Linked DNA regions of Homo sapiens: region 2 is linked to region 1. A link means that fine-mapping ties the variant in region 1 to the plasma level of a protein whose gene starts in the linked region. Region 1 holds a variant in brackets. A gene starts in the other region. All regions are shown on their forward strands. Region 1 overlaps LOC105378327 (a long non-coding RNA gene). Region 2 holds the start of CHIT1 (chitinase 1).

Evidence for each region. A credible set is the group of variants that fine-mapping cannot tell apart. PIP is the posterior inclusion probability: the model's chance that the variant is causal. The UK Biobank Pharma Proteomics Project read protein levels with antibody pairs (Olink). The fine-mapping took linkage between variants from a reference panel, not from the people measured, so its PIPs are less certain.
Region 2: it holds the start of CHIT1, and the variant in region 1 is the best candidate, but not a certain one, in a credible set for the plasma level of the CHIT1 protein (UK Biobank, PIP 0.73).

What each region holds. Positions count from the first base shown.
Region 1 is chr10:62,616,001-62,631,254 of GRCh38, forward strand. LOC105378327 (a long non-coding RNA gene) reads right to left here. Exons shown (of 3, transcript XR_946002.3): 2 at 9,051-9,123; 3 at 8,204-8,615. Among named protein-coding and RNA genes, the nearest start is that of ADO, 180 kb to the right of the region's middle. The variant A/C (reference allele first, on the strand shown) is at 6,599.
Region 2 is chr1:203,226,012-203,241,265 of GRCh38, forward strand. It overlaps CHIT1 (chitinase 1), which reads right to left and starts at 3,662. Exons shown (of 11, transcript NM_003465.3): 1 at 3,601-3,662; 2 at 2,522-2,551. The coding sequence starts at 3,625.

The DNA of each region.
Region 1 (15,254 bases):
TAGATGAGAACACTGAGGATGGAGAGAATTGAAGTGGAAACATTTAATTTGGACATTTGGAAACATTCAGTAAGAGGTGGAGCCAGGATTTGATCCTATGTGCTTTCTGCACTGCAATAGCTTCTTGCCAGGAGACCTTCAGAAGCTTCAATTCAGAAGAGAGAGAATCATGAAGCTGAGGTGGGCTGGGAAGCTTCAGAGGAGGTAACGGCAGTTCATCTGAACCCATCATTTGCTCCACCAATAATTAATACCTACTATTTGCAAAGAATTGTTCTGAGCAAGACTGACAAGATCCCTGTCTTTGTGGGGCTTGTGCAAAGAGGAGGATTTGAAGGGCTAAGTGGAGAGGAAGAAGGGAAAGGATATTTCAGGTGTGGAGTGTGTATCTAGAATCATTTCCTTAAAGGAATCTGGCTCAACCTCAGGCACCTACAAAGCCACCTCCTTTCTGCCTCCAGTATTTCCTTCCTTCGCCTTCCTTCCTTCCTTCCTTCCTTCCTTCCTTCCTTCCTTCCTTCCTTCCTTCACTTTGTCACCCAAGCTAGAGGCCAGTGGGGTGATCTCGGCTCACTGCAACCTCCGCCTCCTGGGTTCAAGTGATTCTCCTGCCTCAGCCTCCCTAGTAGCTGGGATTACAGGCCTGCACCACCATGCCCGGCTAATTTTTGTATTTTTAGTAGAGGCATGATTTTGCCATGTTGGCCAGGGTGATCTCGAACTCCTGACCTCAAGTGATCTGCCCACTGCGGCCTCCCAAAGTGCTGGGATTACAGGCATGAGCCACCACGCCCGGCTAGCCTCCAGTATTTTCTTGTACTACTTCTCATATGCAGTTCCACCACTCCTTGCTTTGCTCGTTCTGATTTCCTGGCTCCCCCATAATATCCTCTTCCCCCTTGGCCACTCAGCCCTGCTCTGCCATGCCCATCTAGGCCATACTGTTCTAAAGACCGCATCTGTGAGAGGCCCTGAGGTAGCATGCTTTGTAAAACCCTTGTAGGAATTACCCCCAGCTGAGCTGCTCTCTATCCACCCATCTCCTTACAGGAGAAGAGCAATTAGATGTCGAAAATGCCAGAAGGATTGATTGACAATGACAGAACCCACATGTTGGAGTGAGAATTATCTAGATTTGTCTGCTGATTCACACACACACACACACACACACACACACACATCATTTGGCAATGTGTATGTATTAGATAAACCTTGATTTCCTCCATGAGAATGGAAGCTCCAAAAGCTGTGATTGTTATCTGTTTTGTTCACCAGAAGAGGATCCTGGCACAAAGTAGGCCCCAAGTATGTGCTGAGTGAATTAATCTTTGCAGGGCATGAGGAAGCCCCTCTTAGCAAGAGAGCTGCTGGGACTGAGATGCACTTTGATAAGCCTGCCACTGGGGTGGAAGGGAGCCTCCTGGGCTGGGTGCCAGCAGGTGCCCCAGTTCCAGAAGGTAGTAGGAAACCACTCTTCAGATAAGAGAAGGAGGATTTGGGTGTCACAGGAAGAAAACATCCAGGAGAGAGGAAGAAAGGAGAAGGTGAGAATTGGGCTGAGGTCTGTTTGGGGAAGAATCACAGGAAAAGAAGGCCTCACTGAAGGCCCTCAGAAAAGGGCTTGGGAGGAGAAGAAGTGTGTTCAACACACTTTACCCGGTTTCAAGTATTGTATGATAAGAACTTCCTCACCCAGCTTCCCTGCAGGACTATCAATAACCAGCCCCCCCACCCCCACCCCCGCCCCGCCCTGCAACACACATAGTATTTCTTAATACTTTAGTGCAGACAGAGTTTGAATTGGTGGAGAGCAGAGAAGAGCTTAGAGAGGAGGGCAGTGACAGCTGACAGCTTGTGGGTTCTGATACAAACTCATAGGTGCTCCTCTGTGGCCTGCCAGTGACCACCAGGCAGTGTTATGAACAGACGTTGCCACGGCCCAGCGTGGCTGTCCTTGCAGACTCTTTCCTGTATCCCACAGTGCTATTCCCGGTGCTGTTGGACTCGCACGGATGTTGTCCTTGTTTTAGGATCCTCCTTCCTATTTGAAGTCATTAGACTCAGTCTCTGCTAATGTGTTTGCTCTTAGGTGCCATGTGCTTATCAGTAGGATTTGAGGCTTAAATGATTTTTCAAATATGTTCCAAAACACACTGGCTGCTAGTCTATTATTTAACCCAGAAATGACTTCTCTGTCTAAGATGAACGCCCCATGGCTTCTTGCTAACTGTACTGCCTGCACCCTGCAATGATTGGAAAGCTAGAGCTTCTCCTTTTGGCAGATGGAGTCACTTCCTGATTGGGGTCCATTTGGAACTGAGATCCTCATCTTATAGCACCATAACTCTTCCTGCTTGAAGCCCTGAAATGTCTGTTTTTGCAGCAAAGTCGCACGAGAGTTTTCTTAACCATTCTAGTCCCAGTAACAAGGACGGCCTTCGGAACCTGCTTCAAACAATACCCGAAGATCCACCAGTGTGCCCTGGGGGCATTTCTGTGTGCCCTGGGACAGAACACCACGTGGTAAATGAATGGACTAGTTCAAGTTATAAACTTAAGTTTGATTCAAAGAGAAGCAAATCTTAAATTAATAGGCAATCTGAACTAGAAGTTCAATTATTCTCATCCCCCCCAATACACACATACATGAGCAGCACTGCTTTCATTCGTTCCTGTGAGCCTGGGGCATCATTGTCTGAGATGCTGTTGTGTACGTTTCCCAGACTGTGAGTCTCCGGATCTAGACTCCAAGCTGGCGGTGCCTGGGGGCCACATGGAGCCTTTTCAGAACCCATGCTCCAGACTCTTCTGCATGATATAATCCTGCAGTAAGGAGAGCAAAACCCCAGGGAAGCCACTCAGCTTTCCCAGTGTGGCTAAGTAAAATTCCATGCTGAAAAAATGGGGTGTCACCCACAGACAGACAACAGATGAGACCTCTGAGTGTATCCTTCCTGTGTTCAAACTTGTAAAAGCTTTTTTTTTCTTCCTTCTGGGAGTTATTTAAATGCATTTATTTTCCAAGTAGGCAGGGTCCAGCTGCCTCTTTTATTAGGCTAGACTATTGCATTGTCAGGGCAAAGGGTGAGCTTTTGCCTTGCAGAGTCTTAGTCATGTGCTGGCAGCTGGTGGAGATGCTTTGCACGCATGGGGAGTCCAGAGCATCAACTCAGGGTGAATTCAGGAAGTGCATTAATCTTCATTCCGGAGCTCCTGGAGTTTCCTGGACTTGCAGCCTCTGCAAAGCCCAAGGTGCACTGTCCATTCCCGTTGGTGGCCTTCAGTTGAAGTTCATCTAACCCCAGTGAGTTGTGTGTGTAAGGGACATTTTCAAAACCCACCTAAGCTCACTTAACTGCTAAGGAAACCTGGCCACTCCTTAGGCTGGTTTCTGAAGGGGGCTCCCTTCTTCTGCCTGAAGATATCAATCAGACCACCCTTTCTCTCCTACTGGAAAACATCTCATAGTTTTGGGTGCCTAGGTCTATTTTTTTTCCTCCCTCCCCTTAATTTAGGCCCCATTTCCCATTTCTGAGAACTTGAAAACCACGGTTCACTGTAACAACGCCAAATCATTACAAGACAACCACAGTCTTGGGTAGCCAGTTCTTCTAAAGTACTCAGGAACTCTTGAATAATGATAATATATTACATAATACTAATATGCATTGAACACATATCATGCATCAGGTATGAATATGTTATTTGATTTATCTCATTTAATTCTCACAAGTCACATAAGTTTAGTTGTTGCCTGATACTAAGAAAAGTTAAGTAGCTTGTTCACAGTCACATGGCTAGTAACTGATGGAGTTGGGGCTCTGACATCTGAATTCTCTGATTTTAGCTCCTAAGCCCTTGCTCCCATTTCTGGGAGATGGGCTGCTTCCACTACAGAATCTCTTTTACAGTTAAGGCAACTCAAGACAAATGACCTGCCTAATAGATGAGGTCAAAACTAGAGCCCAAGGCAGTGGTTCTCAACCATAGTTACTCATTAAAATCAGCTGGAGAGTTAAGAACAAAACAAAAACAATGCTGTGGCTGCATCCTTAACAATTCTGATTTAATTGATCTGGGGAGAAGTCCCATCATTCGTATTTTTAGAAAGCTTCTCAGGGGATTCTAACCTGTAGCCTGGTTTGAGAATCTCTGACACATTACCAACTCCCAGACTAAAGCTTAACCAACCAAAATGCTCCACTTCATCCCATGTTCCAGCCAGTTCAGCTGGGACATGCCCAGAGGCAGGCAGTTAGGTTGCCCTACCATGCCCCATTGAGAGCTGAGAAAGTCTGCCCACCTGTAAAATAGGGAGAATGAGATCTCACAGGACCACTGGTTACATATTGGGATGTACAATGCTTATCTTAACACAGAGTAAGTGCTCAGCAAATGGTAGTCATGGTGAAAACAGTTGTCATTGTTGTAGGGGCAGAAGTTTTCTGTACCTCATTCAGATCTCACAGCCCAAGGGCAGAACTTCATCAGCCATGGGCGCTTGGATCAAGTGCCATTACTGTGATCAAACACCAAGTCATTCAAGTCAGTCCTGGACACACACAAACATGCACATGCACTAGCATCTTCACACCTGTGTATGCATCCAGGAAGTAGCCCCTTCAGCAACATTCTGTGTGAAAAGCCATGATGACAAATGAATGAGGTATATCCTAGGGTTATCAGTGAAAATCATCATAGTTTGCACTGTCAGCCTGAGTGTGCAGAGGTCCACAGCAGGACTGCCCCACACAGGAAGAAGACACAGAGAGGAATCTCTTACTACTTGCTTGCCTAATCATTTCCACTTAACACACAGTGAAAGCAGAACTTCGTGACATGCTTGCCCTGTCTGGGCAAAGGTTCTGCTTTTTTAGGAAGATCTTGGAAAAAGAAAAAAAAAAACAAATAACAAAAAGTCCCCCAAAACTTGGCCATGAGTGGGGAAGAGCTTCTCAATCTTTCATTTATTCCACTAGCATCTGTAGTCAGTTTCTTCATCCTCGTGCCATGTATCCACGTGCCTGGCACTGTGCTGGGGACTGAGACCTGCGTACAAGTTATGTACTTGTGAGACTTATGTGACTTGTGAGAATTAAATGAGATAAATCAAATAACATATTCATACCTGATGCATGATATGTGTTCAATGCATATTAGTATTATGTAATATATTATTATTACTCAAGAGTTCCTGAGTACTTTAGAGATGTCACTGCCCTGGGGCAAAAACAGAGGTCAATAACCTCGGGGATAAAATAGAGGTATACAGGCAACCCAGTACTAGCAGTTAAGACCCTTTTTCTGGGACACATGAAAAGGTTCCCCATTCTGTCCGTCAGCACCCTGTTCCAGGAACCTCACGGTAATGTTGATATTCAGCCAGTATGCACCAGTATAGCCATAATGGTTATCAAGCTAACAAAATGCTTCTAAGTAGGTTGGTAAATTGCCATGCTCTGACCACGCCACATTACTACCCCAAAAATGCCACACCTAAAGGGTTAACCTGTGACGCACAGGGGGTCTCCAGGACAATGCTTTGATACCACTCCAGCTTTCTGATTGGTCAGTGCCTGTGCTAAGGGGGTTGCTAAGTATTCTGAACCTTACTCCTGCCTCTTGGTAAGGGGCAGCTCTAGAGTTCCTCTAGAGGTCTTGGGGCTGTAATTAATTTTCAAGGTAGAGACGGGAGACTGCATACGTACAGCCAGTTCATGGGGTCACTTAGATTGTCTATTTGTTATAGCTTAGGGGAACTGATGGCTATTTTAGGGAGCTAAAATCATTACCTCCACAAACCACTTCTTGGCAATGCTTCCACTTTAAATAGGAAAATTTAAGATGCCTATATTTCCCAGAAGACTCCCTCGTGAAGAAAAAAATACCCCAGTATCTGGAAATACAAACAAATGCATTAAGGTAACACTTGCCATTCAGAGTTACATTGTGTGTGAACTATTTTCCTCATTGGGAAACTTACCAGGAATGCATTCATTGACGAAATACGACACAGCCCCTATAGGTTGCACGTCAGAAAGTAGTTCTGATGATTGCCCCAAAAGGTAGGATGTTGAACCAGGAAGAACCCTGGACAGCTAGCATTGCCTATGGGGGTGCCCAAGGAATGACTATCTGGTGAAGAGCAGGCTCTTCCCCTGCTCTGTCCTGCATCATCCACTCCAACTGTGTCTCCAGGCTTCCTGCTAGATTTGACCAATGGGAGGAACTGGGAGGTGATGGGAGGATGGAAGTAAAGGAACAGCCAGGGTATTTCTCCTCCTTCCTCCCTGCCTCAGGCAGCAGGCCAGGCATCAGTCCATAACTTCTGTGGGACCAGCTCCCACAGGAGATACCAGTGGGCTTCCAGAATCCAGAGAGCGGCCCCTAAACTCCCACCATCCTGCTTCTCCTTTTCCCTTCCAGCCAGGAGTCCTGTGGCTTTCTGCTGTTGTTAATGTTGGGTTGCTTCCCTGGCCCCTGTTGGCTTTTCTGCATCCCCATGAGCTGTGCATCCAGTTCCCTGCATTAAATCCCCTCTGTTTTAAACACTCAGCATGGTTTCCATTTTCCCAGTCAGACACTGACTATCCACTAG[A/C]TAACTCTGTGCTGTTTAGATGCTCCCCCCTCCCTAGGCCTCAATTTTTTGGTCTGTAAATGAGACTGGAGGAAGTACCTACCAGGCTATATTTCAGCATCATGGTATCAGGGGTGTGGGGACCTGCCTACGCAGAGACATGGAAGTCAACCTCTGAGGAGAAAAATGACCTTCCCACTTCAGGATGCTCCTGTAGGCAAGGGCCTCCTTTTGTTTATCCCAAAGTCGTTTTCATTTTGAACTGCAGCCTCAAATCCTTTTTTTGGGGGGGGGGGATAGGCAGGGTATAGGTAATAAAGAATAGTTTTTAATAATGCTATTTTAAAAGCAATAGATTCCTTGTTTCTTTCTTACCCATTTCATAATTTGGCATTTCCTTATCTTTTCCTTAGCTATGTGCTATAGGTTCAAATGGTTTTCTCTAAATAATCTGGCATTTGGTGATGAAGAATATTTGTGGTTGTATTACCTAGTTATTTTTGCTATTTATTTATTTGTTTTTAGATTTTTGGCCATATAAACCACCATCTTTCGGGGTTGAAAGATTCTCATTGTCTAGTTTTTCTGCAAGCCCCACCTGTGCCCTGGATCATTTTAGCCAGCTTTCTCTGGATTCTCGGAAATCCCTGGACGTCTTCCACGGCTACTGCAGGTGAATACTCGAGTGATGTGCATGGTCATGCGGCTTAAGTAAAGAGCTGTTTTGTTGGTTTCCTATTTTTCTTCTCCAATCACTATTTTGTACACAGCCCCTTATCTCCCCACCTGATCTCATTTTCCAGGCAGAGGTTCCACAGGGCTATAATCTGGCATGGAAGAGTCCCTATGGTCCTCGCTGGGCCCCTCTTGTACAATCCTGGTGGCAAGGCCCATGGGCTTCCTCAGCTGCCTCCTGAGCTTATGGGGAGACAAGACCTAAGCAACTAGAGAGCTGGAAACACGTGTTGTTCATAGCTAGATCCCTATCAGGAGCGATTCAGCAGGCAGTGATGGATCAGCTTCCTAGAACTGGACTCTGAGAGAAAGAACAGAGATGGCAGCAAATGTGGCCTCATAGAAGCCCCACAGCAGTGGAACAGGGGCAGATTTTAGAGTTAGATGTTGTTCCAACCACTGGTTCCACTGTATGCTCACTGTGCAAGCTCCTGTCATAATACTGATCGACAATATTGATTAAGCTCCAACTATGTGATATGTACTATGCAAAGTTTTCCTGGATGCATTTTCTTATTTAATTCATAAAGCCACATGGATTTACCAATGAGGAAACAGGCTGAGAGCAGTTAAGCAACTTGACCAATACTATGTAACTAGAAAGTGGTCTGCTTTTACAGTCTATGCTACTTTGAGAGCTAACTAAATTTTCCAGTCGTCAGTGACCTTGTCTTTCATATCACAATATTTGTGCCTATCTTATAGTATTATTTCTCCCTTCCCCCCTCTCTCCTTTCCATTTAACATTTGCTGAGCTTCCATTTTATCTATGCACCCAGTTACATCTGGGTAACAATAGGATTCATTAGTCAATGTTATATATATATATAATGTTATAATGACTATATATATAGTCAATGTTATATATATATACACACACACACATATATATTTTCAAATAATTCAATAAGTATGCAAAATTTACTTATGGAATGGAAGGTATTTTAGCAATCTGTCTTAGGTGGTACATGAGCCTGGATTCAAATGAGTCCTCAAAATGCACATAAAGAATTCATAACTGGCCAGGCATAGTGGCTCACGCCTATAATCCCAGCACTTTGGGTGGCCAAGCAGGAAAATCACTTGAGGTCAGGAGTTTGAGACCAGCCTGGTCAACATAGCAAAACTTTGTCTCTACAAAATAAATACAAATATTAGCCAGGTTGGTGACACATGCCTGTAGTCCCAAGTACTAGAGAAGTTAAGGCAGGAAAAATCACTTGAACCCAGGAGTTCGAGGCTGCAGTGAGCCATGATCACACCACTGCACTCCAGGCTGGTCAACACAGTAAGACAAGGCTCTCTAAAAAGAAACATAAAAATAAAATAAAATAAATAAAAAATAATTTATAACACTGTAAAACCATGGAGGCATATTGCCCCCATTTGCCCATGTGGAGCATGGAAGCAGCCAGCCACAGAAAAGGGTCCCAGCATGAGCCGAGAGCAACTCTCAGGGCACAAGAGGAGCCACATCTCTTCTGTCTTTTTCTACCCAAAGCTCTGATGGAGAACTATCTCAGAGCAGGCCCCAAGGCAGTGGGCTGGCACCTGGAAGTTATTTGGAGGCGGGGAGCCAGGCAAGATAGCAAGACAGCAGCAGTCCCATTCCATTTGAGAATTTAATACTCAAGGTTCCAACAACTCAGGAGCATGCTGAAGGATGTTTGAGCAAGCGTGGGGTGGGAAGATGCAGAGTGCAGGTAGCCGTATTTGCAAAGCCACATATTAGACTCACTTTCTCTTGAAGACAGGACTATCTCAGCATGAATGAGGTCTTCTCAGCTCCTGGTTGCCTATGAAGAGGAGCCCTGTAGAGATGTCAAGCCAAACTTAGCTTCTTTACGGGGAAAAAGCCATTGACGGTAAAAATGGGGGTACCTGAATGAGAGAACTTGAAACAGCAGTTTACATGGTGTGAATGGATACCTGGGCACTGGAAATGAGTCCGATAGTGACAGGGATGAAAGCAAGGGACCAGTACAAACATTCCTGAACTCGGCGCCCTGGGTTTCGCTGCCTTTCCAGTGCTCTTCCCACTGCTCTGAGGGAGAATGAGGGAATACCCGGGGGCTTTCAGGATGGCTGTGTCCCTGCTGGAGATTGTACATCTGGATCTACGGTCACCTTCCTCCAGAGCCCCAGGTCAGAGGAAAGCTTATTAAATATTAACAGTTCTTCTCCCCTGATCTCTGGAGGTACAGGGCCTCAAAGAAAAAGAACAATCACAGCTTTAGAAACACAACCAATTATATACTAATCTGTGGTCATTTTACATTCAATTTACAGTGTACGCTATTACCGTTGGCTTCCTTGTGCATTGTGTTGACATTATCTGTGACTTTGTTTGCTTTACACACAGCTCACAGCAGACAGGAATTGGAGGGAGAAGCCTTTTTAAAAAAATAAAATAAAACTTTAATGGGCCTCCAGAGCCAGTGGAAGCCAGGGAAAGACAGCATTTCAGGCATGCCATAATAATGTTTAGACTACTATTTTCTACCAGTCTGCAAAGTAAAGCTATCTTTCCCCAAGAGAGAATGGGGAGCCATGGAGAGTGGAGAGGAGACAAACTGAGAGAGAACAGAACAGAGAGAAAATGCAGAGAAGCGTTATTTAGGGAAATAGCCCTAGAAGAGCAAATGTGCTTGTGTTCAAATGAATGCCACCAAATGCCCCCTTCTCTAGGGAGACTTCCTGGATTCTCTGGGGTCACTGATCCCTTCTTTAAAGACCTATACCCCCCTCTATATGTCTGCAGTGTCTATTGCATTAAAATTTATCAGTTTCAACGTCTGTTTTTGCCTTTATATTCTGAATTTCCTAAGAATAGAAAAATGTATCTTCCCTATGTTAGTATTGCCAGTGCCTACCACTATTCCTGATACAAAGTAGGGCTTGTGCATTGATTGATGAGTGTGCTATTATTGTATGTAGAACCCTCTGTGAGTGAATAACCCTGAGCCAGTTCTGTAACCTGTTCATGTGCAGCGAGATGGGACAGCTGTCCTAGGGAAGTGAACAATCTCACCCAGTTTGACTTTTATTTTCTCTGAAGTTCTTATCTTTGTGATTTTAACTCCTATATTAACATATGTTAAAACTGTCCTACATCAGATTTACATTTTAAGGATCAGCGAAAAGGTATTAGCAAGTGTGCTCAAAGCATGGGGATTGTTTGCATCCTAATACTGAGTGAAGCACAGAAGCAGACCACCACGTTGCATCTGGAGGAGCATCATGTGTGCACACTCACACCTGCTAAAAACTCCCAAAATGAAAATGGTTGATGAGTTAGGATGGTGAGATTGCAATTGTAGTTTCTTTTCGCAGAAAAATTGCCTTTTTATGCTGTGTTTATTTAAAGATAAATGAATAAATATACAAACAAATATGAAATAGATACATTGGGAGGGAGGGGAAAAAAAACTGTGCTTCCATGTCCAAATTTGTTACCAAAAGAGCAAGTGGTGCTTTTTTATAGTTGCACAGAAAAGAACAGATTCTTTAGAACAGCACAGCACCAGGGTATGAGAATACTGAAGAGGAAAAGTATGAAATCTGTGCTATCCCTCCCTTTGGAGTTGTAAACTGGAGTTTGTTCTTGCCCTTTTAGCAAGTCGACTGTACCCTGGCCAACTCAGTATCAGGGAAAGGGCAAGAATTTTTTTAAATCCATTTCTGGTTGATGACATGCCCCTTAGTCACAGTCACCCCATCCCCCTCTCTCTCTTTCTCTCTCTCTCCCCCTCCCCCAACCCAGAAACAGCAAAATATGCTGTGTCCTGCATGGCCCCTGGGAACCTAGGCAGGGCAACAGTTTCATATAGGTTAGCCTGGTTCAGGGTGTGAATCTCGTTGAAGATCAAATGAACTCCATGAAACTCCTGTGGTTGCTAAGAGACATGATATCTTTAAATGTCAATTACCATTCCCCTCAAAATAGCTCAAAAATCATCCAGTGTTTGAGCTTTAAAAGTCCCATGATATGCCAGATTTAAAAGACATGGACTAAAATCCTGTCTTCATGATATGCTGGTTTTAAAAAGACATGAATTAAAATCCTGACTCGATCATTTTCCAGATGGGTGACCTTCGCTAAATTACCTCTCTCTGAGCCTCATTCTTCCTTCTCTGTTAAAAGGGAGTGGTGATAGGGAGCAATTTTTAAACTGCAAAACACTCTAACTGTATGAGTTTGAACTACTTAATTCACATCTGATATGAGAACATATGTGAGAGAGATTGAAAAAAGACATCAAAATATGAATTATTATCATAGGGTTCCCACCTCCTTTGCATGTATATTAAATTTACTATGTGTGAGGCAGATACTGAAATCTATGGGAGGTGAACAAGAGGTGATCTGACATCTTAGGATAATACTTAGGTTTTAAAAAGAAATTTGGGAATTATTTCTCAGTAATTCTTCACTTTACAAAATAATTAACCATGGTTTATTATTATTGTGTATCATTACACTTAATATTATTAAAGGCCCAGCTATCCCAGTTTGTTTTAAATGGGATTTAATTCACAAAACATTGTTTTGAGTCTAATTTGTAAAGGCACAGTTATTGTAGCAACCAGGTAGTTAAGTTTTCCAGTGTACACTGGTGAACAAGGCTTTGAAGTCCACATGAGAGAAAATTGCAATGAATCTCTCTATGGCCTGTACATGGGTGGCTCTACAGTGTAAACGCTGACACTGACAGTGGGGCCCAATCGTGTGCATGTAACTCTATGCGCTGGGCAAATGGATGAATCATTTCATTTGATCCTTTCCTCACTGCGCTTTCCCTGGATTGGTCCTCTAGGCTGTGTCTCTCACATATGCATTAGGGACCCTCTGAGGGCCTCCTGGCCTCTGCTCCTGGGGCCTCTGTCTTGGTTCCAGTGGGGTGCAGTAATGACACACTCTTTTGAATTCATACTTGAGTGAATCCTTGTAGTATTCCTCCTGCTCTTCCTGTCTGTGCTGTCCTTACTTCAAATAACTAAACAGCAGCTGCTTGGACTTTGGGATTAGACAACCACAGCTCAGATCCTGTCAGTGACTAATTATTCATCCAGGGATGCTGGACAAGGTTACTTCAACTCTCTGAGGCTTGATTGTCCTTATCATTAAGGGGGTATAATAGTATCTATTACATAATTTTTTATATTAAAAAGTTAGACCATTTAACATGGTGCCTAAGAGGTAGCAAGTTCTTGGTAAGTTATAAGCACTATTGCTTCTGCTGCTGCTGCTATTATTATTATTACTATGTACGGGATCAGCTTAAAAGAACCATGGATTAAGTAAATACCAGTCTGGTCCTGGTGCATGACTGTACTATAGGGCTTCGTGGCTAGAGGTTTTACATATGTCCACATACACATATATACAATGCTTTCAAGGGCACACGGAAATCATCTATACTTACATAGCAAACCTAAAGCTGGCCGGGCGCAGTGGCTCATGCCTGTAATACCAGCACTTTGGGAGGCCGAGGTGGGTGGATCACCTGCAGTCAGGAGTTCAAGACCAGCCTGACCAATATGGTGAAAACCCTTCTGTACTAAAATTACAAAAATTAGCCAGGCATGGTGGCGCACACCTGCAATCCCAGCTACTCAGGAGGCTGAGGCAGGAGAACCACTTGAACCCAGGAGGCAGAGGTTGCAGTGAGCCGAGATCGCGCCACTGCACTACTCCTGGGCAACAGAGCGAGACTCTGTTAAAAAAACAAAAAACATTCTAACTGGTGTGAGATGGTATCTCATTGTGGTTTTGATTTGCATTTCTCTGATGGCCAGTGATGGTGAGCATTTTTTCATGTGTTTTTTGGCTGCATAAATGTCTTCTTTTGAGAAGTGTCTGCTCATGTCCTTCGCCCACTTTTTGATGGGGTTGTTTGTTTTTTTCCTGTAAATTTGTTTGAGTTCATTGTAGATTCTGGATATTAGCCCTTTGTCAGATGAGTAGGTTGCGAAAATTTTCTCCCATTTTGTAGGTTGCCTGTTCACTCTGATGGTAGTTTCTTTTGCTGTGCAGAAGCTCTTTAGTTTAATTAGATCTTATTTGTCAATTTTGGCTTTTGTTGCCATTGCTTTTGGTGTTTTAGACATGAAGTCCTTGCCCATGCCTATGTCCTGAATCGTAATGCCTAGGTTTTCTTTTGGGTTTTTATGGTTTTAGGTCTAACATGTAAGTCTTTAATCCATCTTGAATTAATTTTTGTATAAGGTGTCAGGAAGGGATCCAGTTTCAGCTTTCTACATATGGCTAGCCAGTTTTCCCAGCACCATTTATTAAATAGGGAATCTTTTCCCCATTGCTTGTTTTTCTCAGGTTTGTCAAAGATCAGATAGTTGTAGATATGCAGCGTTATTTCTGAGGGCTCTGTTCTGTTCCATTGATCTATATCTCTGTTTTGGTACCAGTACCATGCTCTTTTGGTTACCGTAGCCTTGTAGTATAGTTTGAAGTCAGGTAGTGTGATGCCTCCAGCTTTGTTCTTTTGGCTTAGGATTGACTTGGCGTTGTGGGCTCTTTTCTGGTTCCATATGAACTTTAAAGTAGTTTTTTCCAATTCTGTGAAGAAAGTCATTGGTAGCTTGATGGGGATGGCATTGAATCTATAAATTACCTTGGGCAGTATGGCCATTTTCACGATATTGATTCTTCCTACCCATGAGTATGGAATGTTCTTCCATTTCTTTGTATCCTCTTTTATTTCATTGAGCAGTGGTTTGTAGTTCTCCTTGAAGAGGTCCTTCACATCCCTTGTAAGCTGGATTCCTAGGTATTTTATTCTCTTTGAAGCAATTGTGAATGGGAGTTCACTCATGATTTGGCTGTTTGTCTGTTATTGGTGTATAAGAATGCTTGTGATTTTTGTACATTGATTTTGTATCCTGAGAAAATGTGGCACATATACACCATGGAATATTATGCAGCCATAAAAAATGATGAGTTTATATCCTTTGTAGGGACATGGATGAAATTGGAAATCATCATTCTCAGTAAACTATCGCAAGGACAAAAAACCAAACACTGCATGTTCTCACTCATAGGTGGGAATTGAACAATGAGAACACATGGACACAGGAAGAGGAACATCACACTCTGGGGACTGTTGTGGGGTCGGGGGAGGGGGGAGGGATAGCATTAGGAGATATACCTAATGCTAAATGACAAGTTAATGGGTGCAACACACCAGCATTGCACATGTATACATATGTAACTAACCTGCACATTGTTCACAGGTACCCTAAAACTTAAAGTATTAAAAAAAAAAATCTACCAAAACAAGAAAAAATAAAATAAAATAAAATAAAAAAACAAAAAACCCTAAAGCTGTGCAATTAAATATTAATTTTTTTGACTTTGGAATGTCCTTTGTAATTTTTTTGTTTGTGGTAAATTTACCTTCAAACTTCACTTGGATTAATATGAAAGCAAAATGAGATGTGTATTTCCTAAATATGTATCAACAAAGCAAGAGAAAGAAAGTGGCTCCCAAGTAATTGAGAGACAAAGTGAAAAATGAAGTTGCATGTAATTTACATGCTTAGACTCAGTCCATATACGGATAATCAAAGGCAGCGAGGAGGAGAAGGAATATTGAGGAACCGCTAGTAATGCTTAAAAAAAAAACAAACAGGCCGGGCGCGGTGGCTCACGCCTGTAATCCCAGCACTTTGGGAGGCTGAGGCGGACGGATCACGAGGTCAGGAGATCGAGACCATCCTGGCTAACACAGTGAAACCCCGTCTCTACTAAAAAACACAAAAAATTAGCCGGGCGTGGTGGCGGGCGCCTGTAGTCCCAGCTACGCGGGAGGCTGAGGCAGGAGAATGGCGTGAACTCGGGAGGCGGAGCTTGCAGTGAGCCGAGATCGCGCCACTGCACTCCAGCCTGGGCGACAGAGCGAGACTCCGTCTCAAAAAAAAAAAA
Region 2 (15,254 bases), not on the chromosome of region 1:
GGCATTTGCTTTTGTGTGGATGGAGTCTGGCAGTTGGGAAAGCATTTTCAGAGGCCAGACATGGGATCCTCAGAACACTGAGTGGGCAGGACCATCATCTTCTAAGCCTTCTTTTCCCGGGAAGCAAGTTGAGGCTCACGAGCTTGGGGCCCGTCCCCATCAGCATGGCTGCTAAGAGGGCAGAGCAGAGGTGCTGCGACCCAAGTCTCATGACTCCTTGACATCCTTGAAAGTTGCTAGTCTCAGAGTCCGAGCTCCCAGGATCAGGGTCTGGCAGGCAGGTCTCCCTATCCCCAGTTAGGGTCTCCCCTCCAGGCCCTGAAACCTGACAGAAGGTAGCCCCAGGCAGCCCCAACATGAGGCCTAGAGGGAATTAGACATGGCATGCTCATCTGCAGAAGGAAGGCAGGCAGAACTTTCAAAAACGGTTTGGAATACCTCAGAATACTTCGTTAAAATGCAAACAGATAAGTAGCAGAGAGGAGGCCCCAGTTACAGGCCTGGGTTTATGTTTCTTTAGTCTTGCATTAAAGCCATTTGCATTTGCTTGTTATCCCTTGTAGATAATCTACGTTTATCAATATCACTGCTGAGATTCTAATAGAGCTAATTTTATCTAGGAGAAGGCATCTTGTCTCTAAGTACCCCACACACTGTAGGGTACTTGTCTCTAGAGTACCCTACAGTGTGTGAAAAGACTTTGCAGGGGTGGGATGGTCTATTCCCAGTGAGGGCTCGGTGGTGATGACCCCCACTGAGGTCAGCCCTGTGCAGGGTTGACCAGGACACCAGGAAGCAAGAATGCTAGTCTTCATTCCAGCATCTGCCAAAAATAGACTTTGGGTCTATCTCATCTTCAATCCCGGCCCCATCTGATAATGACTGTGTGGTCTGTGGGGTCTCTTCCAGTCTCTCAATCTATGATGGTGTGGTTTGTATGAGCCAACATTTTATGCCAAGATCTTGATGGAGCAGTGAGTTTGGACTGGAGCGTGCCTGTGGCTGGTGTCTAGAACCTGGGACTTCCCTTTGCCCCAGCAGGGTCTGTCTGTACCCCCTCCAATGCCCACATGGACAGGGATGGGACGAGGAAGAGGAGGGGTGCAAAGTGTCTATAGGAGAGTTTTGGGAAGAGACCGCTCAGGCAGGCCTCAACTAGAACCCGAGAGCATGGAGGGCTGACCTTGGGCATACACGTGGCCCCGGAGTGGTCACTGTCTCTAACCAGAGGTCACCCAGGAGTGCAGCTTGCTAGTGGGGCTGGGGTGTAGCCTGCAATGATACAGGAGAATTGGTGAACTCCCCAAAGGAAAAGAAAGGAAGGAGGGGATGAAACCAGATAACTCATCCCCCAGGCCATGTAGGAAGGAGCCAGGAAGCTCTTTTTCTATCATGTCATGCTGTCGCATATCAAATATTGTTATGAATTTCTGTACTATGGAGAAAATAAAGTGCAGTGGTTAACAGCAGGGACTCTGGCATGTCAGTGTCTGGGTTGAAATCCCAACTTTGCAACTTACTCGCTGTGCGACTCAGCTTCCTCCTGTGTGAAACGGGGAGACCATTGGACCTTCCACAATGTGTGTCACAGGACCCCAGTGTGGGCTAAAGTTAATATATGTAAAACACTCGGAGGAACACTGCAAGGAAGAAGTTCTGTTCTAGGTGCTTCACATATATTAACCCTTAGTCCACACAAAGTCCTACTATTATTACTATACTGCAGAAAGCCCAGAAGTAGCCTGGACTAAAGCTTTTTGAGAAATCTTCCACCTCTCATCTTCCCCATGTTTGCTGTTTCTGTGCCCCCGGCTGTTCCATCCTATGAGGCTGAGAGGGAAATGTACCTCCAATGCTACAGCCCAGCGTGAGAGGCACAGTCGCAGGACAAGTTCTGAGAGGCCAGCATTCCCAGGCCACTGATGCCCAGGGAATGGGGTGGGACAAGACGGGGACCAGGAGTTCAAGTTGCTGAAGGTCCCCCAGGTCTCTTTTCCATTTGACACAACAAGGAGCTCCCTCCTGCCTCTCTCAAGCTCCACATCTGATCAGTTCAACAGACCAGAAGCAAGTGTGTTGTCCTCGCAGAGCTAAGGGGCTGGGGATGCTGAACCAGATGAGACTTAGGTTCCTTACCTGCAGCAACTTGGAGTCTGAGACTGGTGCAGAGAGACACCTAAGCCAATAATGAGAGGCAGTACTGTACTGTAAAACACACAGGTGCTGCAAGAGCACAGAGTGCAGAGGAGGGAGCCAGCAACCCCAGGAAAGGAAAGCCCTGAAAGAGGCTGATGCGCAAGCTGGCCCCACAGATGTGCAGGAGCTCAGCTAATGGATAAGGAGGCAAGAGCCTTCCTGGGAGGGCTGGTAGCAGATGGGGACATTTGCAGGGGTCTGAGCTTTGGAAGAGAGTCCCCACTGAAATCTGGAGCTCTTGGGGAGGTCTGGCAGGGAAGGTGTTTTGGGACATTAAGCAGAGCCCAGGGAAGGGGCTGAGGCAGCCAAGAAAGAGGCTACTTACCCCATGGGATCATCAGCAGGACCATGAAACCTGGAGCAACACAAGAGAGAAGGCCAGGGTTATGCTGCCATTCTCACCTTCCCAGGCCCCACAGCTTACGGAAGCACAGGAGGTGGTCAGGGAGGGCTGATTTCATACAAATCAAGCTTTCTCCTTTCAGAAGGGACCCAGGAGGGCACTGTGCCCATCCCTTCATGCAGACCAGACCACGGGGGTCTCTTCCTGGCCTGGGTTGGTCCTAGAAGCTGATGGAAAGTTCCATGGGCTGAGGCTGCCCCCTCTCTATACCTCAGTAAAGGGCAGTGTGGATTCAGGAAGATTGTGGAAAAACTGCTGACTTGTGAGTTATTTAGAGAGATAGTTTCTCTTTCGGAACAAGAAACAAGCCTGTTTTGGGGCTAGAAAGAATCAATCTGGAAGGGCTGCATGGAGAGAGTTCATCTCCTGGGGAGGGCCTGTGCCTCTGCTCCCATCGTTTATGGCTTCCTGTTGCCTTTCCGCTACCTGGCTGTGGTAGGCAACCACAGCCTTGGAGACCTAGGGTCTGACAGGACTCCTTCGAAGAGATCTCTTTCACCTGGTGACCTTGGACTTCTCTGTCAACCTAATAGAACCTCCATGAAAATTTGCAAGGATGCCCAGGATCTTGGCCCCAGGCTGCCCTCTTGCAGGACAGACAATATGAGGTTGGAGAAGAGGTTCTTGGCAGTGGGCGCTTCTTGGATAAGGCCAACAGGAGGGACCTAAGAACATGGGAAAGACACAAAGACCCAGTGCAGGGGCCTCATTGACTCTGGGCTTTCAGGACAGAGAGAGGAAAGTCAAGTCATCTTCAGCCTGTTGAGAAAAGCCTTCCCTTGCAACATGAAGTCTCTTGGGCTGAAAGAGCCTAAGGGGGAGCCCACAGGAAAGGTAATCAAGGGACTGCAAGCCAGGAGGCATGGAGAGGGATAAAATGACCCTCTGAAGTTCTCCTGAGTCCTCCTGCTTCCTTGCAAATGGTAGCAAGTGGTCCCTGAACATCCACATCCCCACCTCCCCACAGCTCCCGAGACCCAGCCCACTATCCGACGGCTCACCTGCCCAGGCCACAGACCGCACCATGATGCAGCTCAGCGGCAGGCTGCAGCCCATACAAACCAGCTTTCCAGGTCCTGCTCTGCTTTTATCTGGCCACCCTGTCCCACCCCAGCCAGGAGTGTTGCAATCAGGGGCACTGGGTGGGGGGGATGGGAGCAGGGTGGGGAGGGGTAAGATGTCAAGCAGCATGAATTGGGCAAACTTGACACAATGGCCTTTAGCAATTCTTGCTTTTCTGGAACAATCAGAGGGTGACTCTTAGTGTTGCCAAACAGAGGAAAGCGGGAAGTGGCCCTGAACCTCCTGATGGATGAGCATGACCCTGACTTTCTTTGTGTAGTTGGTGAGGACCATAAGCAGCCCCAGACTTAATAGGGCTTTGGAGGAAGAGAAATGACTCACGAGTCAGGCAGCTGGGTTCCAGACCAGCTCTCTTGCTTCTCCACTGCCCTCTCTCAAACTGTTTCTCCATCTAGAAGATAATGGGGTTGCAAATATAATTTACTTTTCATGATAGTAATAGTTGCATATCCATTGATGGAGAAAAATAGATAATGATAAATAGTGACTATAAGTTTGGTAATGGCTTGAAATGCCTATGTTTCTTATGAAGAATAATAATGGTGGACATTTGGGCCAGGCATGGTGGCTTACACATGTAATTCCAGCACTTTGAGAGGCCGAGGCAGGTAGATCACCTGAGATCAGGAGTTCGAGACCAGCCTAACCAACATGGAGAAACCCCATCTTTACTAAAAATACAAAATTAGCCTGGCATGGTGGCACATGCCTGTAATCCCAGTTACTCGGGAGGCTGAGGCAGGAGAATTGCTTGAACCCAGGAGGCGGAGGTTGTGGTGAGCCGAGATCGCGCCACTGCACTCCAGCCTGGGCAACAAGAGTGAAACTCCATCAAAAAAAAAAAAACAAAAAAAAAAAAACAGAAGAATGGTGGACATTTGTGTCGGTTTCCCAGAGCTTCTGTAACAAATGGCCACCAAACAGGTGATTTGAAACAACAGAAGTTTATTCTTTCACAGTTCTGGAGGTCAGAAGCCTGGAAACAAGGAGTTGGCAGGGCCATGCTTCCTCCGAAGGCTCCAGGGGCGAATACTTCCCAGCAGCTTCCAGCTTCGGATGGCCTGTGGCATTCCTGGGCATGCAACGGCATCGTTCCAGCCTCTGCCTGCCTCCATTTTTACACGCCCTTCCTCGCTGTGTCTCTGTATGTCCCCTCCTTTCTGTCTCTGAGAAGGACATTCTAATCCAAGATGATCTCATCTTGAGATCTTTACCTTCATTACATTTGCAAAGACCCCTATTACAAATACAGTCACCTTCTGAGATTCCAGGTGAAGTTATCCTTTGCGGGGGGTGGGAGGGGGTCACCATTCAATTCACCACAGGACCCAAGTGGGCACATATTACTGTAATGTCTGCAGACAATGTCTGGTGTATGCATGAACTCCAGGGTCCCTGAGAAAGCTCTGCAGTTTCTAGGGGATCCAGTCTTTGGCCGGTGGGCTTAACATGAATGGCCTAGATGGCCACGTGGGAATATTGGGTGCGGCAGGCTGTGGAGTTAGGTTCCTGAGTTTGAATTCCTCCTCTGCCATTTACTATCTGTGTAAACTGAAGTGAGTTCCTTAATTTCCCTGAACTCCAGTTTCTTCATCTGTAAAGGGGAATCCTCAGAGGACTGTTGGGAACGCACTCCATGGTGGCTGCTATTATTCCTGGTTCTGCCAAGTGCTGCCACTTCTGCTGGTCTAGGGGTGTCAGAGGGCTCTAGTAACCTCTTCGAGGCCCCTGAGAGTGTTGGACCTCAGCACTCAGATGGACCAGCCCTAAGTCCTCCCTTTCCCTGCTGCAGTCATGGCTTCTGTTTCTGCTGTGGTCAGCCCTTTCTCTTGGGGATCCTGCAAAAGAGCCTGTTCAGGGTCACCTGAGATGTGCAGAGGTGCCTCAGCTCCTTGGTGGTGGGGGAGTGAGAGTGGGATGCAGGAGTGAGGACTGGGAGGTCCTGAGCCTCGGGGAGGAGAGGCTTCTCTGGAGAGTTAGGGGCCACCTTATCTCGCCCCCGCCTCCATATACACAACTGACCTGTCAGTTTCATGAATTTCTCGCTATGCCTCATGTCCCCAGGAGGACATGCACTGCAGTGCCCAGAATCTGAGTTTCTCCAAACACTGCCCCATCCCCTATTGTCTTTAGGTTTTCTAGAAAAACAGATCAAAAATAATAACAGAGTTTGGTAATATGGCTGGATTTAAGGTGAATGTACAAAAATGAATAGCTTTTCTCTACATTAGCAATAACCAATTAGAAATAGAAGTGAAGGAAATGTCTGATTCACAGAAGTGTCAAAATCTATAAAATATTTATAAATAAATTTAATAACAATAATAAGTTTAATAGTAGAATCTATAAAACTTACCCACAGGATATAAATTTGCAATAGGATCTGAACATGTTCTTGCACGGGAAAACAATATCATAACAAATGTCAATTTTTGTCAACTAAAATACAAAACCAGTAATGATGGTGACACACTATACAAAACTTATTATAATTCCATTGGGATTAAAATAGCATGGAATTGCCACCAGGACAGACAAACAGAGGTAGGTCTGAGCATATATGGAGAGGGTGTGTGCAATGAAGGTAGCAGTTCAAATGAATAAGAAAAAGATGTTTTATAAATGCCAATGACTTAATTGTCTACCAATCTGGAAAGAATCAAAGTTAGGCCCCTCACACCATATACAGCAGAAATGACACGTGGTAAATGAAGGTGGGCACAGGGAGCAAAGGAGCTCAAGGAGAAACACCAGCCAGGGTGGGGTGGGAAAGCCAGTGGAGTGATGCTTGAACAGAGCTTTGAGAATAAGTAGGTTGCTGGACAAAGAGAGAAAGGGAAGGAAGTTATAACAAACACACCAGATGTTCACTGATGGAGCCTCTCAGTGAGGAAACTGCCCACGATACATGCAGGGACAGTGGGACATCATTAAAAACTCTGTGTCCTGTCGGTTGAGAACCACTGGTTGAGGTAGGCAGGTGGGGGTGATCTCTGCTGAGGGGCTCTGTGTAAAAGGGCACTGGACATGGCTGGAGGGAGAGGAGAGAGATACAATGCCTTGCCAGCCTGGATTTATTTTACAGTATGCCTCAGTCTAGTAGGGCACATCCTGGGCTCACCTGATGGCCAGACCTGAATTGCAAGATTTCAAGGAATAAGTCCCTGCCTGGAGGCTGAGACCTGGGAGCAGAAGGCAGGCCCATGTCCACCAAAGCTGGGGAGGAGCCTTCCCCAGGGACTGACCCAGAGTTCCCACCTAAGTAGGCAGGTCCCAGCCACCAGTACAGATTGCCCATGTGTAGAACTGAGAGGTCTCTGATGCCTTCAGCAAACTTCAATTAACAGCCCACCACACCTTTGCTCCTAAATTGTGTCCCTCCTGGGGCTGCCCTCCCTGGCCCTCAAGTCCTACAGAGATCACTCTGAGTTAAGCCTTGCCTCTTCCACAGTCAATGTACTCCATACTACCTTCTGCTATCTTGGAACAACTCCTTCCATCCAGAATAGGAAAGAACCCTGGCTTGGAGACAGACAGAACTGGGTGTATCTCAATGGATATCACCAATAAATTACTTTCATAGATTTTATACTCTCCTTTCCAGCCCCATTGGCTTCTCCCACCCCTTTCTCAGCCACTGCCAAAGCCCAAACCAAGTAAAACCAGTGTGCTTGATATAAAATGAGGCTTCAAAGCAAGTCCCCGTCCCACCCTACTGCAGAGCAGATGCCTGTATAGAAATTCTAAAGCTTCTGCTGATTTGCATCCAACCTGGCTGGCTGAGCTGGGGCTAGTCACAGCCTCTCCAAGCCTTGGTTTTCTCATCTGTAAAATGGGGATAATACTACCTATCTTATTTGGTAATGATGTGGATCGAATAGATAATGTGTGAGAGGGCTTTGTAGGTGGGAGGACGCCAGCCAGATCTCATGGGACTGCATCTTGATGGTTGGTATCACACCTTTTTCTCTTGCTTCATGTGAGCATCTCATCTCTGTAGCTGGACTGTCCATAGCCAGGCAGAGTGGGGCCTCTCTCCACACCTCTCTATGTGTCCCTCAGCACCAAGCATACAGGGGGTCTTCAATTAATGTTTGTTAACTGTTCCTTCCCACGTCCCACCGTGTTCTTCCCCTTAGCAGTAAAAGACATCACCACCTATCCGGGTCTCCAAGTCACCCAGGAAGTGTCCTTGATCCTTCCCTTTCCTCACCCTCAATGATCAGGACCTATTAGACATCCTGCCTCCTGCTCCATCTCCTCCACCTCCTAACCACCGTCAACTCCCACCCTGTCCCCAGAAGAGCCTCCTACCTGCCTTCCTTCCTAATTCTCTTGCCTCTGCAATCCATTCTCCACACAGCAGCCAGAGTACACTTTGAGAAACTTAAATCAGATCCTGTTGCTTTCCTGCTAAGACCTTGCAATGGTTCCCACTTAAAATAAAATATCAACTCCTTAACTCTACCTCTAGAACACTCTAACTCTATTCTTTCATTAGGACAATGTTCTTTCAAAGGACACCTTCTTGGCAGGGAAGATAATTTATCACTGGACATAACTAAATTAAAAAAACAAATTTTTGAAGCCTCTCAGGCTCACTTATCCATTGTGCCTGGAGCTGAGGCGTTAGATCAGGTGGCAGAAAATCTTTATGGACTAAACCCCACGACTTTGATTAAGTCTATTGGAGGCCCCACTCTAGTAAATTTTGGAATTATGTTTCTCTGTTTAACCAGCTTGTCTTTAGTGTGTCAGACAAGTCAAAGAATCCTGCATCAAAATCGAGAGAATGAACAAGCCTTCATCGCCATGGCACATTTATATAAAAAGAAAGGGAGAGATGTTGCGGGAAGTCAGGGACCCTGAACGGAGGGACCGGCTGAAGCCATGGCAGAAGAACATAAATTGTGAAAATTTCATGGACATTTATTAGTTCCTCAAATTAATACTTTTATAATTTCTTACGCCTGTCTTTACTGCAATCTCTGAACATAAATTGTGAAGATTTCATGGACATTTATCACTTCCCCAATCAATATTCTTGTGATTTCCTATGCCTGTCTTTACTTTAATCTCTTAATCCCGCCATCTTTGTAAACTGAGGATGTATGTTGCCTCAGGACTCCGTGAGGATTGCGTTAACTGCATAAATTGTTTAAACAATATGAAATCTGGGCACCTTGAAAAAAGAACAGGATAACAGCGATGTTCAGGGAACAAGGGAGATAACCATTAGGTCTGGCTGCCTGACAGCCAGGTGGGACAGAGCTATATTTCTCTTCTTTCAAAAGCAAATAGGAGAAATATCGCTGAATTCTTTTTCTCAGCAAGGAACATCCCTGAGAAAGAGAATGCATTCCTAGGGGGAGGTCTCTAAAATGGCCGCTCTGGGGACATCTGTCTTTTACTGTTGTAGATAAGGGATGAAATAAGCACCAGTCTCCCGTAGCACTCCCAGGCTTATTAGGATGAGGAAATTCCTGCTTAATAAATTTTGGTCAGACCGCTTGTCTGCTCTCAAACCCTGTCTCCTGATAAGATGTCATCAATGACAATGCATGCCCGAAACTTCATTAGCAATTTTAATTTCGCCCCGGTCCTGTGATCTCGCCCTGCCTCCATTTGCCTTGTAATATTTTATTACCTTGTGAAGCATGTGATCTTTGTGACCCACACCCTATTCATACACTCCCTCCCCTTTCGAAAATCACTAATAAAAACTTGCTGGTTTTGCAGCTTGGGGGGCATCATGGAACCTGCTGACATGTGATGTCTCCCCCGGACACCCAGCTTTAAAATTTCTCTCTTTTGTACTCTTTCCCTTTATTTCTCAGACCGACTGACACTTAGGAAAAATAGAAAAGGGCCCACGTTGAATATTCAGGGGCGGGTTCTCCTGATACCTTTGCACCTGCCATTGCCTCTGCCCACAATGTTCTTCTCTGTGATCTTCACACAGCTGGCTCCTTCTCCTCATTCATGCTTTTCCTGACCACTCATAGAAAGTAGTGCCCTCCCCTCAAGTCACTCTCTGTTCTCTCCTGATGATTTATTTTCTCCTAAGTACTTTCATGGCTGAATTCATTCATTCATTCATTCATTTGTGTGTAGTGTCTGTTTCCTACCACTAGAATGTAAGCTTCATGAGAGGAGGGACTTTTCTTGTTTAGTCCTCTTTGTCTAGTACCCAGAATATTTCCCAGCACATAGTAGGTGCTTAATCCATATCTATTGAATTAATTAATTAATTAATGTGACCTCTCTGCATGATCTGGCCCACTATGATATTGTGATATAAGAAATGTATATTTGGTCTTTGTCCCCAATTTCTGGCACGGAGCTCCTAAAACCCTTAAAATTTCTTGAGAAATAGGGGTTCTAGGTGCATCTCTTGTTCTAATGTTTAGCCTTTGACCCTAGTTTTGACACAGAACTCCTAAGCCCTTGGAACTTCCTGGGTACTAGGAGCATCTTTTGTTCCAAAGAGGTGCCTCTTTGTGGGCATCTGGAGGGGGGTTGGTCACCAGAAAGACCAAGCCATGATGAGAAGTTTGGAACCTTCAGCTCCACCCCCCATCCTCTGGGAAGGGGAGTGGGGCTGAAGACCACGTAATCATGCTTATGTGGGGAAGCCTGCATAAAAGTCCATTAACTAGGCTGGGTGCAGTGGCTTATGCCTGAAATCCCAGCACTTTGGGGTGCAGAGGCAGGAGGATTTCTTGAGTTCAGGAGTTTGAGACCAGCCTGAACAACCTTGACCTCCTGAACAACTAGGTCTCAACCTAGTGAGACCCCCTTTCTACAGACAAACAAACAAACAAACAAACAAACAAAATCCATGATCCATGGGGTTTAAAGAGCTTCAAGGCTACTGAACACATGGAGAGAGGAGAGCAGCTCCAAGCCCCTTCCCATCTTCCTCGCACTATGCATCTCTTCCATCTGGCTGCTCCTCTGTATCCTTTGTAATATCCTTTAAATCAATGGGTCAATGTAAGTAAGTGTTTTTGTGAGTTCTGTGAGCTGCTCTAGCAGAGGAAGAGCAGAGGAAGGGCGTCATGGGAACCCCAGTTTTTAGCTGCTTGATTGAAGCACAGCTCACCACCTGGGACTTGTGATTGGCCTCTGAAGTGGGGGCAGCCTTGTGGGACTGAGCCCTCAGCCTGTAGATCTGACTCACTCCAGATGGATAGTGTCAGAATGGAATTAAATTATAGGATACCCTGTTGGTGTCTGCTGGAGAGTTGTTTGGGTGTGGAGAGAAATCCCCACACCTCTGGTCTCAGAAATGAAGTATGGAGAGTGAGTGTGAGAATAGTAGAATACAGTCAGTTTGTGTGTTTTTCCATTAGGCCACCCGCCTACCTCTCAGCCTTGTGCTGGTCACGCCACCCTGAGCACCCCAGTTCTATTTCATGAACGTGAGTGTGTCAAGCCTTTTCCAATCTCAGGGTCTTGGCACAGCACCCTTTGCCTGGGATGTGTTCTCCTTCTCATTCTCATCCTCCAGGGCTGGTCTCTGCTGTCACCTCCTGAAGAGGCTTCCCTATATCTGCGTATTTCTCCATGGCAGGGCAGTTCTGCTACTCTCTCCTGAAAAGGTGTTTATTTTTCCTCCCCAGACCTTATCCTAATTTGCAATTACATATTTATTTTGTGAGCTTACGTATTTAATGTCTGTAACTCTCTCTAGACTGGAAGCCCCAAGAGCAGTGACCGTGTCTCTTTGTTCATTGCTGTGCACCAAAAACCAGGTGCCTGTATAAAGAACTGACCTCAATAGACATCTGTTGAATGAGTTGATTATTGAATACTATTCCTTCAACATCCCTTGTAACTCAACGTCAAGTGCTTAGTAAGAAGCTGGTTGATGTGAGAAGTGCATACCACCCCTTAAGACCTCTTAATGTATTAGCAGAAGCTATGCTCCCCATATTGCAGTGGAAGAAAGAGAAGCCAGGGAATTTGCAAGCCTTCCAGAGCTAAAGTGGAGGTTTCCAGGTTCTTCCCTTTCCATTTGGTTATCTTTGGACAGGCCTGGCTCCCAGGCAGAGGTGGAGCTAGTGGCTGCAGGCTGGTGTGGGCTTCAGTCATGGTGAAACTCATATCCTGGAGTCAGGGCACTCTCTGGGGACAGAAAGCACCTTGAATCCTCTCTGGCCACGTGGATTCTGGCCTTGCATGTCTAAACATCAGCCTGTTTCCTGTTTCCAGTGGACCATATCCCAGTGGTAGTTGTTTCTTTCACCATTAACAGGTTTGAGCCTGAAGCAGTTGGCATGTAGTGGGCAGTAGAACTAGAAGGGGAGAGTCAGGCCTAGGTCATGATATGGGCCAGGACTGGAAGTACAACCCATTCAGACCCCTACACCTCTCCCTGACCTGCTGTCTTCAGATACCTGACATTCTGCATGGACTCCTTCCCTCCTCCCCACCTCCTTCTCTCTGTCTCACCCCCTTTCTCTCTGTCCCTCTCTTTTTTCTCTCCTTTCTTTATTTCTACACATAATTATTGTTGTACAATAATAATGTCCCATTGCAGCATTTCTTAAAATAGCATAAACCTAAAACTGCCTTAAGTGTCACCAACTGGAGCCTGAAATTCCATACGTCATTAAAATGAAACAAAAATGTCCTCAATATATTGTTAAAGGAAAAAAGCAAGGTGTACCCATTTCGTGTGGCAGATTGAGCATAGGTATTTATCTCCACTCTCTCCTGAAATCCCTTGAAATCACAGTTAAAGGAATAAAATGGTATAAATCTACTAGGACAAAGCAAACAGAAGAGGAAATTAAAATAGATAAGAGATGCCAACAAATGTTTGGAAGGTGAAAACAGAATGAACAGGTGAAACTGTTTGTGACAACAGAATGAACAGGTGAAACAGGCTTCACAGACCTGAAAAAGCTGAAACCTTGGTCTTTCATGTGGGGCCTCTTTCCTCAAATGTCTGGTGATCAGGCTGCAGGTGGGGAAGCCCACAGGAAAAAAGAGAACTCAGGCCAAAGGACCCTGAAAATGTGCAGGAGTCAGCAGAAAGTTGCCAAGTGGGCTAAAGCTGACAACAGTAAGTGTGGGTGACCTGTTGGACCCCTGGATCTTCTTCATCCCCATTAAATATGGGGATGGTCCAGAGGGACTGAAGACTCAGTAATACCTGGCCCAGCAGAGGATGGTGTGGGGGCTGTAGTGGGTGGGGAGGGTGTTAGACTGAAGACTGAGAAGAAGGACTGAGGAATTAAATGAAAGTCTGTACATGGGATGCTCAGAACTTCCAGGCTTTCCCCCCGCTAGGCTCCCAGAGCCCCAGTAAGAGGACTGAAAAATTCCTCTCAAGGAAAAGCTGGCCAGCCTAAGAGAAAAGTTACCAAAACTCAGACTACCAAACTCAAATGACATTTGAGGGCCCCCAGCAGAACAGCCAGGTTCTTCTCCATCACCCGAAGGTGGGGACCTTGGATAAGAAGCCCACCAAGCCTCTAGAGCTTCCAGTGGGCTTCTGTTGACTCATATGGAACCAAAAGCCTGGTGACTAGACATTCGAGGAAAGAGTCCCCACAGGAAAGACCAAAATAAAAAAAGAAGGAACTCAGAGAAATCAGAGTGGGCAGCTCCCAGCGATTCTGACTTTCTAACCTCAAACGACTATATTCTGCCCATTAACAATGCATTACTTTCATTCTTAAAAATTACTTTATGATAATCAATGGGCATAAAATTTCAGTCAAGCAAGATGAATAAGCTCTAGAGATCTGCTGGACCACACTGTCCCTACAGTCAGCTATATTGCATTGTATACTTCAAAATTTAACAGGGTAAATCTCATGTTAAGTGTTTACCACAAGTAAATAAAAAATTTTAATATGCTGATTCATTGCACACTTTCTAGGTAACAGGTGCTTGCCAGGCACTGGGGACCCTGAGATGAATTCACAGTCCCTGTCCCAGTGGGGTTTATAGCCTGCAGCGTTAAGCATTGCTTTTGGCTGGAGTGATTTCTCAAAAGGCAAATCCCCTGAGCGGTGCAACCCTCTGAGTTATTTACACCTCAGCCTGTTTTCACCAGGAGGAAGAATTTTTGGTCTCCACCATGGGCCCTGCAGTTTTTCTTATCTTCCCCCACATTTTTTGAAGCTGAGACTCCTCATCACTCAAGGTTTTAAACATGCCAAGGCAGGGGGCTTTAGCTTGGGGCCTTGGGCCAGGGCCTGCTGGTCCCTGTGAGGTGGGTTCTACCTGGCCTCTGGGGACCCAGGCAGGGAGGACAGGTCTAAGAAAAGACCCTTGTGGGGGCATCTTGGCCCTAGGTTTTCTCAACCCCCACTCAAGGACTGTGCCCAGGGTTCTATTTCTGGGCTTCCACCCACTCCCTGCCTGCTGACTAAATGACTCTAAGTAATCTGTTTCCTCTCCCATGGGTTCCCCAAGATCATCATGGGATGTACTATCACAGGGTCTGAACTGGGCTGGGCGGGGCTGGGCCTGACGGGACACGCTACACATTGTGTCCTTGTGTACTTGTGTACTTGTTTACTCTAACATCTAGGTATTTGAGGGTTCTTCTTTTAAAAATTAGCATTGTCAAAGCTTTGTCTGTTTCATTCATCTTTTAAAGGAAAAAGATCATATATTTACTAAAGGATTCTATAACTTTTAATAAACTGGCAGAAATACTTAAATGGTGACAGTGATGAATTGCTTGAGAGTTAAAAACTCCTGGGTGCCCAGTCTGAAAGAGAGACACACAGTTTTGTGGATTTTACCTCTAGAAGTCCACCAAGTTCTCATGTTGAAGACTGGAAAAAAATATCCTCATGTTACCTGCAAGAGGGAGGGGGAAAGTAATATCTTAAAATATTCCCAGAGCATCTTGTATAACAAAGGCTTGCCCTCCAAGGGAAATTACTTTACCGGAGCCTTATCTTACCTGGGGAAAAATCCACTAGCCCTGTAGCCATCCTGTATCATGTAAGGATAGAAAACACAAAGGTTAAGAAATTATTTTGTAATGCTAAATGACGAGTTAATGGGTGCAGCACACCAGCATGGCACATGTATACATATGTAACTAACCTGCACATTGTGCACATGTACCCTAAAACTTAAAGTATAATTAAAAAAAAAAAGAAAGAAAGAAATGCAGGCAATCTAAAAAAAAAAAAAAAAAGCAATTATTTTGAAAGTCATGGCCCAGGGACTCAGGTCCAGTAAAATACTGAGATTTAATCATAAGATTATAGAACTCTCGACTGGGCGTGGTGGCTCACGCCTGTAATCCCAGCACTTTGGGAGGCCGAGGTGGGTGGATCACGAGGTGAGGAGTTCAAGACCAGCCTGGCCAACATGTTGAAAACCCTGTCTCTACTAAAAATACAAAAATTAACTGGGCATGGTGGTGCACGCCTGTAATCCCAGCTACTCAGGAGGCTGAGGCAGGAGAATCACTTGAACCTGGGAGGCAGAGGTTGCAGTGAGCAGAGATGGTGCTGTTGCCCTCCAGCCTGGGCAACAGAGCGAGACTCCGTCTCAAAAAAAAAAAAAATTATAGAACTCTTGCCCTCTCCAA